Homo sapiens: one gene and its partners. The protein of the gene in region 1 interacts with the protein of each later gene in a pairwise test. Each region holds a gene or a part of one and is shown in the gene's direction. Other genes may lie near its edges.

Region 1 (3,655 bases):
GTTTTGATTTGCATTTCTCTGATGGCCAGTGATGATGAGCATTTTTTCATGTGTTTTTTGGCTGCATAAATGTCTTCTTTTGAGAAGTGTCTGTTCATATCCTTCGCCCACTTTTTGATGGGGTTGTTTGATTTTTTTCTTGTAAATTTGTTTAAGTTCTTTGTAGATTCTGGATATTAGCCCTTTGTCAGATGGATAGATTGCAAAAATTTTCTCCCATTCTGTAGGTTGCCTGTTCACTCTGATGGTAGTTTCTTTTGCTGTGCAGAAGCTCTTTAGTTTAATTAGATCCCATTTGTCAATTTTGGCTTTTGTTGCCATTGCTTTTGGTGTTTTAGACACGAAGTCCTTGCCCATGCCTATGTCCTGAATGGTATTGCCTAGGTTTTCTTCTAGGGTTTTTATGGTTTTAGGTCTAACATTTAAGTCTTTAATCCATCTCACATTAATTTTTGTATAAGGTGTAAGGAAGGGATCCAGTTTCAGCTTCTACATATGGCTAGCCAGTTTTCCCAGCACCATTTATTAAATAGGGAATCCTTTCCCCATTTCTTATTTTTGTCAGGTTTGTTAAAGATCAGATGGTTGTAGATGTGTGGTATTATTTCTGAGGGCTCTGTTCTGTTCCGTTGATCTATATCTCTGTTTTGGTAACAGTACCATGCTGTTTTGGTTATTGTAGCCTGGTAGTATAGTTTGAAGTCAGGTAGCGTGATGCCTCTAGCTTTGTTCTTTTTGCTTAGGATTGACTTGGCAATGCGGGCTCTTTTTTGGGTCATATGAACTTTAAAGTAGTTTTTTCCAATTCTGTGAAGAAAGTCATTGGTAGCTTGATGGGGATGGCACTGAATCTATAAATTACCTTGGGCAGTATGGCCATTTTCACGATATTGATTCTTCCTATCCATGAGCATGGAATGTTCTTCCATTTGTTTGTGTCCTCTTTTATTTCATTGAGCAGTGGTTTGTAGTTCTCCTTGAAGAGGTCCTTCACATCCCTTGTAGGTTGGATTCCTAGGTATTAGAACTAGAAATACCATTTCACCCGGCAATCTCATTACTGGGTATATACCCAAAGGATTATAAATTATGCTCTGTAAAGACACATGCACACATGTGTTTATTGCAGCACTGTTCACAATAGCAAAGACTTGGAACCAACCCAAATGTCCATCAATGATAGACTGGATTAAGAAAATGTGGCACATATACACCATGGAATACTATGCAGCCATAAAAACGGATGAGTTCATGCCCTTTGTAGGGACATGGATGAAGCTGGAAACCATCATTCTGAGCAAACTATCGCAAGGACAGAAAACCAAACACCGCATGTTCTCACTCATAGGTGGGAATTGAACAACGAGAACACTTGGACACAGGATGGGGAACATCGCACACCGGGGCCTGTGGTGGGGTTGGGGGAGGGGGGAGGGATAGCATTAGGAGATATACCTAATGCCAGCATGGCACATGTGTACATATGTAACAAACCTGCACCTTGTGCACATGTACCCTAGAACTTAAAGTATAATAAAAAAAAAAATGAAAATAACCAAAAAAAAAAAAAGAGAAAAGAAGAGTCCTTTCATTGCTGTTTAGCAGTATCTCATTTTAGTAATTTTTCTAGTGACATATTTGAAGTTCTGATTGACTTCTTCGAATGAGTGTATTAGCCGCCATCTCTTGTTTGTTCAGGTCAGTAGGTTGTTTACAGAAAACATTTAGAATTTGCAGTGTTGAGTCTGTTTACAAAAAACAGCCTACATTTTGCTAATCACTGGAAAAATACTAGGTCAGTGTCTTAAGATGTGCAATACTGAGATCTGTGATGTTAACTGATCTCTCAGAGGATGGGTCGATACATATCGTTGATAGTATACTGTAGACTGTTATTAACAATAGAAGATATACAGAGAATTCATGATTTCTTTGGTATTATAGTGAATTACATGATTTAATATTTTATAACGTTTTAATGTAAACATTTATTTTCTGAGCACAATTGAAGCACTTCAGCCTGGCAAACTTGTAATCTGTATGTGTAATTGTGAGTTTGAGTTAACTAACAATATTTAAGAGTTATAAAAGCCTGGCTTCTGTGAAATGGATTACAGTAATATTGGCAGAGAGTAAAACAGTTAGTTTCAGTTAATGAAGATGAGTTTTTTGGGAGAATTATCTTTTTTTAAATCAATTCCTGGAATTCTGCAGTGCAAAGGGAAAGTAAAATGAAGCAGTCATGAAATAGAAAAAGCTTAGCAGGCAGCATACTTTCTTTCCTGTTTCTTGACGTTCTGAGATAAGCACATTGTTATTTATTTCAAGTCTTGGAGCACTTTGAGACAAGCACATGTGCCTGGGCATTCATAACATTAAGCCCTGTTAGGAATCCCACTTACACCCTTGGCTTCTGCGTACTGTGAGAGCTGGGCTGGATGATAATTACAGTCAGCTTTCATTTGTAGAGCCCAGGTCTTCAAATAATTTCCAAGTAAACTATCCCAGATTAATACGTTTCAGGACATAAGTGTGGTTCGCTAGAGCTGTCAAGCTGTCTGGATGCCCTTCTGTTAACTTTGTAGAAGAGATTCCACGTGTGTCAAGTTACAGTGTTTGCTGAAATTTTTCTGTTGTCTTGAAAGCTATTTGAAAATGAAATGTTCATTATAGTACTGGTGGTCAGGTATGTTCCTTAGATATATATGAATTAATGTCACCACACTATAGACAGTAATTTTTATATCACCTTCTCTCCAAAAACCTGCAGCACTTTTAGGATGAAGTCTAATTCCTTAACACAGCCTATGAGACCCTGACGACTATGGCGCTTACCCACTTCTCCAGTCCCATGTCATACCTTTTTATTTTTCGCTTGCTGCTTTTCATTCTTTAGTACTCACCTCTTTCCCCTCTACCCTGGGGACCTTTGCAAATGCTGATCCAGCTGCCTGGAGTGCCCTTCCTTCCCTTGCTAATTATTCTTCTGATCTCAGTTTAAGAGATGCTTACTCAAAGCTACCTTCTCTAACTTGAGTACATCTTCCTCTGTTAAGCTCCCTTAGTATGGTGAATTGCTCTTCAGCTTAGAGTGACTGCCATTGCAAGTAACTGAAGTCAAATTGTTTTAAACAAACCTAGTGGCTTTATTGTCTCCTGTGTCTTGAGGGTTCAGAAGCCAGATGGGCTTTAGGGTTGATTGGTTTGAGTGATGTTGCCAAAGATTCAATTTTGTGCTTTTCTCTACTTTGTCTTCTCTAACGTAAATTTTATCGTCTGGCCAGAGTCCTCTCTCTCGGTTATGGGAAACCATCAACAGTTTGGGGGCGCTTGTTTCCAAAACCTTAGAGGAGTGAGAGAGCTTCTGGACCAAGAGTGCTCAGCAGTCCTCTCCGTTCATGTCACTGGCCCTCCTTGTGTCATGTCCTCATCCATTTCTGAACCAATAACTGTGACCAGGGAGAAGATAGGATTCTTTTGGTCTTGAACCAGTTGCCTAGCTCCTAGAGATAAAGGGGAATTATTTTTTGTAAAAGGAACAAAGTTCACTAGAGCAATCTTGCCAGAGTTATATTTTTTTATTTGATTAATTTTTTTGTGATATTAGGCTGTGTATAAGAACAGAGACTATGTCTGTTTTTTTTTTTTTTTTTTT
Region 2 (3,655 bases), on another chromosome or scaffold:
CTAAGAGGCAAAATACCCACTTCTGCCAATGATCGCTACTCAAACAAAGGAATATTTTTAGCTCTGCATGCATTTAAAAAATAAATTTATGGCTGGGCACGGTGGCTAACGCCTGTAATCCCAGCACTTTGGGAGGCCAAGGCGGGTGGATCACCTGAGGTTAGGAGTTCGAGACCAGACTGGCCAACATGGTGAAATCCCATTTCTACTACTAATAAAAAATTAGCTGGGTGTGGTGCCATGTGCCTGTAGTCCCAGCTACTTGGGAGGCTGAGGCAGGAGAATTGCTGGAACCCGGGAGGCAGAGGTTGCAGTGAGCCGAGATCACACCACTGCACTCCAACCTGGGCAACACAGCGAGACTCCATCTCAAATAAATAAATAAATAAATAAATAAATAAATAAATAAATAATGTATTGCCTTTGTCTAGTTAGCAATTTCCAGACTTTTCTGAGAGATCAGTAAAAGCTTAGAATTCTAGGATTGGAAAGGAGTTTCTATTCTTTGACAGCCCCTCTCCCTCCCAATCTTGACATGGGTAAGAATGTGAGCCTTGATCCAGATGCCAAGACGACTGAGATAGAAGGTGTGGTGTGGCTCTGTAACTTTTGTCCACTAGTCATATTGGCCCCTAGAGCTACACAGAATAAGACTAGCTCCTCTTTCACGGTTCAGCCTTGACAAGGTATTACAGGATACCCATCCCGTTTTTGGTAAGTGTTCTTTTCCTCAGCTGATATCTATTTCTCATAAGATTAATAAGTTTCCATGCCTGTCACCAAACATGCCACAGTCCCCTGTGTGTGCCCTAGTAGATACATGGTAACCACTATGATGCCAGAGCTCAACCCAACCTTCCAGATGAGGTCAACCAGGACTGAGGAGCTTAGGACTTGCCCTCTCTCTTCTCTTCATGCGGATGCTCTACTTCTATTAATGCAGCTTCGGATGGTACCAACAGGAGGATCTTATATGAATCAACGAAGCCCCAGGCCCATTTCCCATGAAGGTAGACCTTTTCCAGCCCCAATCTTACAAGGGAGGAGAGCTATTGCACTAATCCCCCATGGAAGATACAGAGAAGTGGCAAACCCTTCCACTGCCAAGCATAGGGTAGTGGTAGAAGGGGGTAAGTGTACAACATCGAAGACAAAACTTCTTACATTGGCCGGGCACAGTGGCTGACGCCTGTAATTTCAGCACTTTGGGAGGCCAAGGTGGCAGATCACTTGAGGTCAGGAGTTCGAGACCAGCCTAGCCAAGATGGTGAAACCCCATCTCTATTAAAAATACAAAAAAAATTAGTTGGGCTTGGTGGTGGGTGCCTGTAATCCCAGCTACTTGGGAGGCTGAGACAGGAGAATCACTTGAACCCAGGAGTCAGAGGTTGCAGTGAGCTGAGATCGCTCCACTGCACTCCAACCTGGGTGGCAAAATGAGGCTCCATAAAAAAAAAATAAAATAAAATAAAATAAAATAAAAAACTTCTTACATGCTGCTCTGCCAGCTTACTCTCAGATCAAAGTCCCTTCATCCTCAGTGGCCATCCTTTCATACTCAACACTGGGAAGTTCATCTATTGCCTTTCTCTCTCTTCCACCATTCTGAGCAAGTCCTGTGCACATAGCAGGTGTTCAGTAATTACTCCCTGAATGATTGATAAGATCCTCTTCCTTGGAAATGTCCCCATCATCTGATGAGGATGACATCCATCAGAGCTTGCAGAGCTCTGGGGACAATATAAGCAATATATACTCTATTAATATTAATATTTCTCATCTACTGTGCTCCTGGATTAATATTGTCAGAACCCTCCCTCTGCCCTCTTGCATCTTCTCATCTGTAAGCAGTGCCGCCAGACCACAACCCTTGTTCCTCCTTTGCCTTCATTTCTCCCCTAGTTGATATGATCCTAGTTGATTTAATCTTGATATTTGTATGATCCAAGCACCAGGGAGTGAAGAGGAGCCTCATGAGATGTTAAGAGCTCAGGAGAGAATGATAGATGGGAATCTCTCAGGGAAAATATTTCCACATTAAGGTCCAATATCGGGCAGAATCATCACTGATAATCTCCCTGGTCACTTGTCATGGTGATAGAAGGTAGTTGAAACTGGAACTGGATTGCAAAATGCTGCCAGGAGAGAAAGCAGTGCTTTTGTTTAGATTATTCCTGGAGTCTAGGCCGGAGACACCTATGTTCCAGCACCTCCAGTTTCCATTCCAACTCCCAACAAGAGATGAGAGGACAAAGTAGAGGAACTAAAATAGTTCTGATAGGCACATATTTTCATTTCTCTAATGACTCTAATCAGGCTGGGCGTGGTGGCTCTTGCCTGTAATCCCAACACTTTGGGAGGCTGAGGCAGGCGGATCACTTGAGGTCAGGAGTTCAAGACCAACCTGGCCAATATGATGAAACCCCATCTCTACTAAAAATACAAAAATTAGCCGGGCATGGTGATGCACACCTGTAATCCCAGCTACTCAGGAGCCTGAAGCAGGAGAATCACTTTAACCTGGGGGGCAGAGGTTGCAATGAGCCAAGATCACACTACTGTACTCCAGCCTGGGCAACACTGCAAGACTGTGTCTCAAAAACAAACAAACAAAAAAACAAAAAACAAAAGACTCTAATCAACACACTACATGCGCTGAAATGATGACTGAGATCAACTGTCTTGCAGGAGAATTTTGGAAAACAAGAACAAAACTTTGAGTCACATTACAACGAGATCTTGGAAACACTTGCTCAAAAATATGAGGAAAAAATACAAGCTCTAGGGGAGAAAAAGAAAGAGAAGCTGGAAGCCTTATATGGACAACTGGTCAGCTGTGGAGAAAACCTAGATACTTGCAAAGAACTGATGGAAACAATAGAGGAGATGTGTCACGAGGAGAAGGTGGATTTCATAAAGGTCAGTAATGAAACAAAATGAAATAATGAACATAATGGAAAGAGATGGAATTATAAACGGAAACGACAGTTATGGTTGAGGTAAGCTAGGTTGTCCTCTTTCCTCCTGGAGGCATTGGAATCGACTTTTATGGCCAGCATCCATTTGATTCCACTGGATGATCGTGATGGGGAGGCTGTGGCCCAATCTCTCTGCATGGCTTCCACGTGAGTGGCCAGGCGGACTCACAGCGCAGACTCTCTCCCTCCCCCAGCGCAGAGGCAGCACCAGTCTTTGTTCCTCTGTTCTGGTCACCCAGATACCTGTTCCCTCATCCTGGAGCTAAGCTGAGCAAAAACCGTGCTCTAACAGTTTTTTGTTGTTGTTGTTTTGTTTTGTTTTGGTTTGGTTTTTTTGAGACGGAGTCTCACTCTGTTGCCCAGGCTGGAGTGCAGTGGCGCGATCTCGGCTCACCGCCAGCTCTGCCTCCTGGGTTCACGCCATTCTCCTGCCTCAGCCTCCCTAGTAGCTGGGACTACAGGCGCTCGCCACCAAGCCCAGCTAATTTTTTTTTTTGTATTTTTAGTAGAGACGGGGTTTCACTGTGTTAGCCAGGATGGTCTTGATCTCCTGAACTCGTGATCCGCCCACCTTGGCCTCCCGAAGTGCTGGGATTACAGGCGTGAGCCACCATGCCCGGCCAAGAGTTTTATTATTATTATTATTATTATTATTATTATTATTATTATTTTGAGAT
Region 3 (3,755 bases), on another chromosome or scaffold:
TAAGGTGATATATTTAGAAAAACCACCATTTAGCAAACTAAAATTAATGGATTCAAGCAAGGATCATCAACAGACACTGAAATTAATGGGTAAAAGTCTGACAAATAACAGGATATTTGTATAATATTAAAGTACCTGTTCAGAAACTACTTATTAATTAAAAGGGAGAAAAAAAAGTAACCACAGTGGAGAACCAGGCAGACACCACGTTAATCCACATGATGAAAGCAGTGGTGTGCTAGAGCCCATTCCTACCAACCCAGGAAAGGGACATTTCCCAACTTTGTGTTCCGTGATGACAGACTCTATTTAGAAATTGGGCATGGTGGGAATATTTACAACACAGAATGGGGCAATGGCAAATGCCACAGAACAGGGCAATATCTCCCCCTCCAGAGCCAGTTGAGTTGTTAAACATTTGTCAGCACCACACTGGATCAAAGTTAACTACCACCAGGCAATTCAACTTTCTGTGTCTCCTGATATTTCACACTAAGAAGAGCACAACATCATTTTTGTCATATTCTGCCCAAAATGTATGACCTCAATCTAGTGAGAAAACATGAGTTGGGGGAGGGGACGGGAACACAGGATTAGATTGAGAGGCATCCTACAAAATAACTGGCAAAACATCAAGGTCGGCTGGGCGCGGTGGCTCACACCTGTAATTTCAGCACTTTTGGGAGGCCAAGGTGGGTGGATCACCTGAGATCAGGGGTTTGAGACCAGCCCGACCAACATTGTGAAACAAAATCTCTACTAAAAATACAAAAAAATTAGCCGGGCGTGGTGTGGCGCTTCTATAGTCCTAGCTACTCGGGAGGCTGAGGCAGGAGAATTGCTTGAACCAAGGAGACAGAGGTTGCAGTGAGCCAAGATTGCGCCATCACACTCCAGCCAGGGTGACAAGAGCGAAACTCCATCTCAAAAAAAAAAAAAAAGAAAAAAAAATCAAGGTCAAGACAGACAAAGATGATTAGGAAGGTGTTTCAGACTAAAGGAGACTAAAGAAACAGGACAACTAAATGCAATATATGATCCTAATTGGATGCTAGACCAGAAATTTTTTTTTTTTTTTTTTTTTGCTATTAAGGACATAATTGGGACAACTGGTGAATATGAATAAAATCTTTAGATTGAAAAACAGAATTATATCAATGTTAAGTTTCTGATTTTGAACACTGTACTATGGTTATATAATAAAAGAATGCCCCAAATGCATACAAAAGTATATGGAAGAAAAGGCATAAGTCTGCTACTGTCAGGTGGTTCGCCAAAAATATTTTTTAAAGAAAGAAACATGTTAATAAAGGAAAATGCGGGTACCAGACACACAGTTCTTTGTACTATTCTGGGGACTTTTCTATAAGTCTGAAATTATTTAAACATTAAGTTACAAGGGAAAAACCATGAACGCTACCTGATCCTCTGCCCTCATCTCTAGGTCCACATGGCTGCAGTCGGAGGGAGGCGGTGAGCAAGGTGTTCTCCAAGGTCTCAAGGGGCCCCAAGGCTACAAGGTCAGAACAGAAGCAAAGGCCACGTCCACCACCGACCCACCTCAAGAGCCACAGCCTCTCGGGTCTCCACAGCCCCACTCAGGTCTCACACACAGGCGCAGGGACTAGCCACAGGTGCAGCAACGTCACGTCTTTCCCCTGGGCGCGTGTGCAGCTCGAGGCTTTGCAGGAGGCGCACCTGCGATGGCCTTACCGCCAGGTGAGCCCGGCGGGCTCTCATCGCCTCAGCCGGAGATTCCAACTGCAGGGAGCGCACCTCCTCTGGCTAGGGCGTGTTTCCGAAGGATGGCAAGAATCCTGGCCTCTGATGGCTATCTTCTCCCCTTCCCCTCCAAGCCCAGTGTTGTGACCCTGTGCCCTCTTTCCCCTCAATTTTGGGCCCAGGAGTCAGGTACTAAGACTCAACAGTCACAGAGGGAAGTCAGGAGCTCCCTTGTGAAGGCAGACTTAAGCAAATGCATCTTCTTCCAAAGCCTTCATGTTTTTCTTAATGTTGGCTTCAAAAGCCTAGTTTGTGGCCCAGGCTGCTACTGGTGAGTTTCTAGCAGGGTGCTGGAAATCTTGGCCAATACCAGCCGACCACTCCCCCAGTCCCCTGGGGCGTGTTTCTGGGCTTTCCCATTATCAATTAGTTGGAAATTGCACATCGTGTCCTGGCCTTACAACAAACACCTGTTCTGATCTACAGCCTCTTGCTGAAGGAACAACAGGAGACAGACAGCAGGTGGCGGGGTGTGCCACAGGTATTGTGCTTCTTACGCTTAAGTTTTCTGATGAAGTCTCATTCATAGGATGAAGCCGCTGTATTTGAATTCTGGGGTGAACACAATAAGCTGCACAGGGAACAGACTCAGGCGCTGCTAAATCTGTTGTGATTATAGTTGCTTTTGCAAGTTTCTTCATTCATCCTATGTAGACAAGCCAGGCTAGACAAGGAATCCATTGTCTAGCATAGCAACTGGCACACAGTAGGTGCTTGGTAAATATCTGAATGACTTTATAATGCCCTGCACATTCTGCAGAGTTGAAGTGATCATTCTCCCAATACCTGTAAATCTGGAAGTATTTTTGCCTATGTTGGCACTGCCATACTTCTTTAAAATGATACTTTAAAAAGAAAATGTGTTCTTCAAATACAGTGCTTGTGGAAGAAGTCCTGAGGTTCCCAGTGATCTCAAATGCTGAGCAGTGGAAAGGAGACTGAATAACAGCATTATGATCTGTGTTTTTACTCTGTATTCATGAAATCTGATTATCATTTCCTCTATGTATTTTTTTCTTATCCCCTTCCCCTGCAAAATGAAAAAATTCGGTAGTGAAAAGTGTGAAGGAAAGACAATTGTTTCAGTTGAGCAGATAGGCTTATCAAACAAATGAAAACAAAAAAACACATAATCAAGAGTATGATGGGAGAGGAAAAACAAATTATTTTTAATGATTCACGGCAACCACATTTATATCCTATTGTTACTAGAGAAAAAAATGTCTTCAGATAACCAGTGGTCAGCAGATGAGGATGAAGGCCAATTATCCCGACTAATCAGGAAATCTAGAGACTCCCCCTTTGTCCCTATAGGTAAGTACAAGCCTTGACTGGATGCAGAAAACTGTAATAACACAATGATGCCTTACCCAGTGCCTTTGCGGATTGAAATGTTTCTTATAATTGAATTTTTTCAGATAATTGAAGCTAACCTCCTCTAAGCATGTGTTGAACTTTCAGAATAGTTCCTAATACATGGTAAGCCCCCAGTAAATGTTAGCTGTTATTTGAGGCATCAAATTTTATTCTATTTTATCCATTTCATTAGAAGTCTACCTAAAATTATTAGTTCCTAGCCAGTCAAATGGAATAGATTGAATGAATATTAACATTTCAGTCATAACTCAGGACCATCAACAGCAGCATCAGTTTATTATATTTAAAGCCTATTAGGGACTATTGAGATGCATATGTCTCTTTGTCTTGTAAGTAATCTAAACTTTAAGTTCTTACATCTTCTGTTTATAGATTTTTCTGTTTCTATCTTACTATTGGGCACATTAAAAACTTCTGCTTCTAGGCCGGGCACGGTGGCTCATGCCTGTAATCCCAGCGCTTTGGGAGGCCGAGGTGGGAGGATTGCTTGAGCTCAGGAGGTGCAGGTTGCGGTGAGCCAAGATCACACCACTGCACTTCAGCCTGGGTGACATAGTGAGACCCTGTCTCAAAAACAAACAAACAAATAAACAAAA

The links.
Region 2: the proteins of FARS2 (region 1) and FSD2 interact in binary tests that used the Homo sapiens proteins (3 or more experiments, as listed by UniProt).
Region 3: the proteins of FARS2 (region 1) and HIGD1C interact in binary tests that used the Homo sapiens proteins (3 or more experiments, as listed by UniProt).

Annotation. Positions count from the first base shown.
Region 1 is NC_000006.12:5,267,925-5,271,579, forward strand, and holds part of FARS2 (phenylalanine--tRNA ligase, mitochondrial), read left to right. Parts: intron 1-3,655. UniProt on the Homo sapiens protein: Is responsible for the charging of tRNA(Phe) with phenylalanine in mitochondrial translation.
Region 2 is NC_000015.10:82,782,059-82,785,713, reverse strand, and holds part of FSD2 (fibronectin type III and SPRY domain-containing protein 2), read left to right. Parts: intron 1-2,688; coding exon 2,689-2,919; intron 2,920-3,655.
Region 3 is NC_000012.12:50,950,997-50,954,751, forward strand, and holds the start of HIGD1C (HIG1 domain family member 1C), read left to right. Parts: upstream 1-1,547; 5' UTR 1,548-1,703; coding exon of another isoform or gene 1,704-1,719; exon of another isoform or gene 1,720-2,208; coding exon of another isoform or gene 2,209-2,263; exon of another isoform or gene 2,264-2,812; intron 2,813-2,994; coding exon of another isoform or gene 2,995-3,002; coding exon 3,003-3,096; intron 3,097-3,755.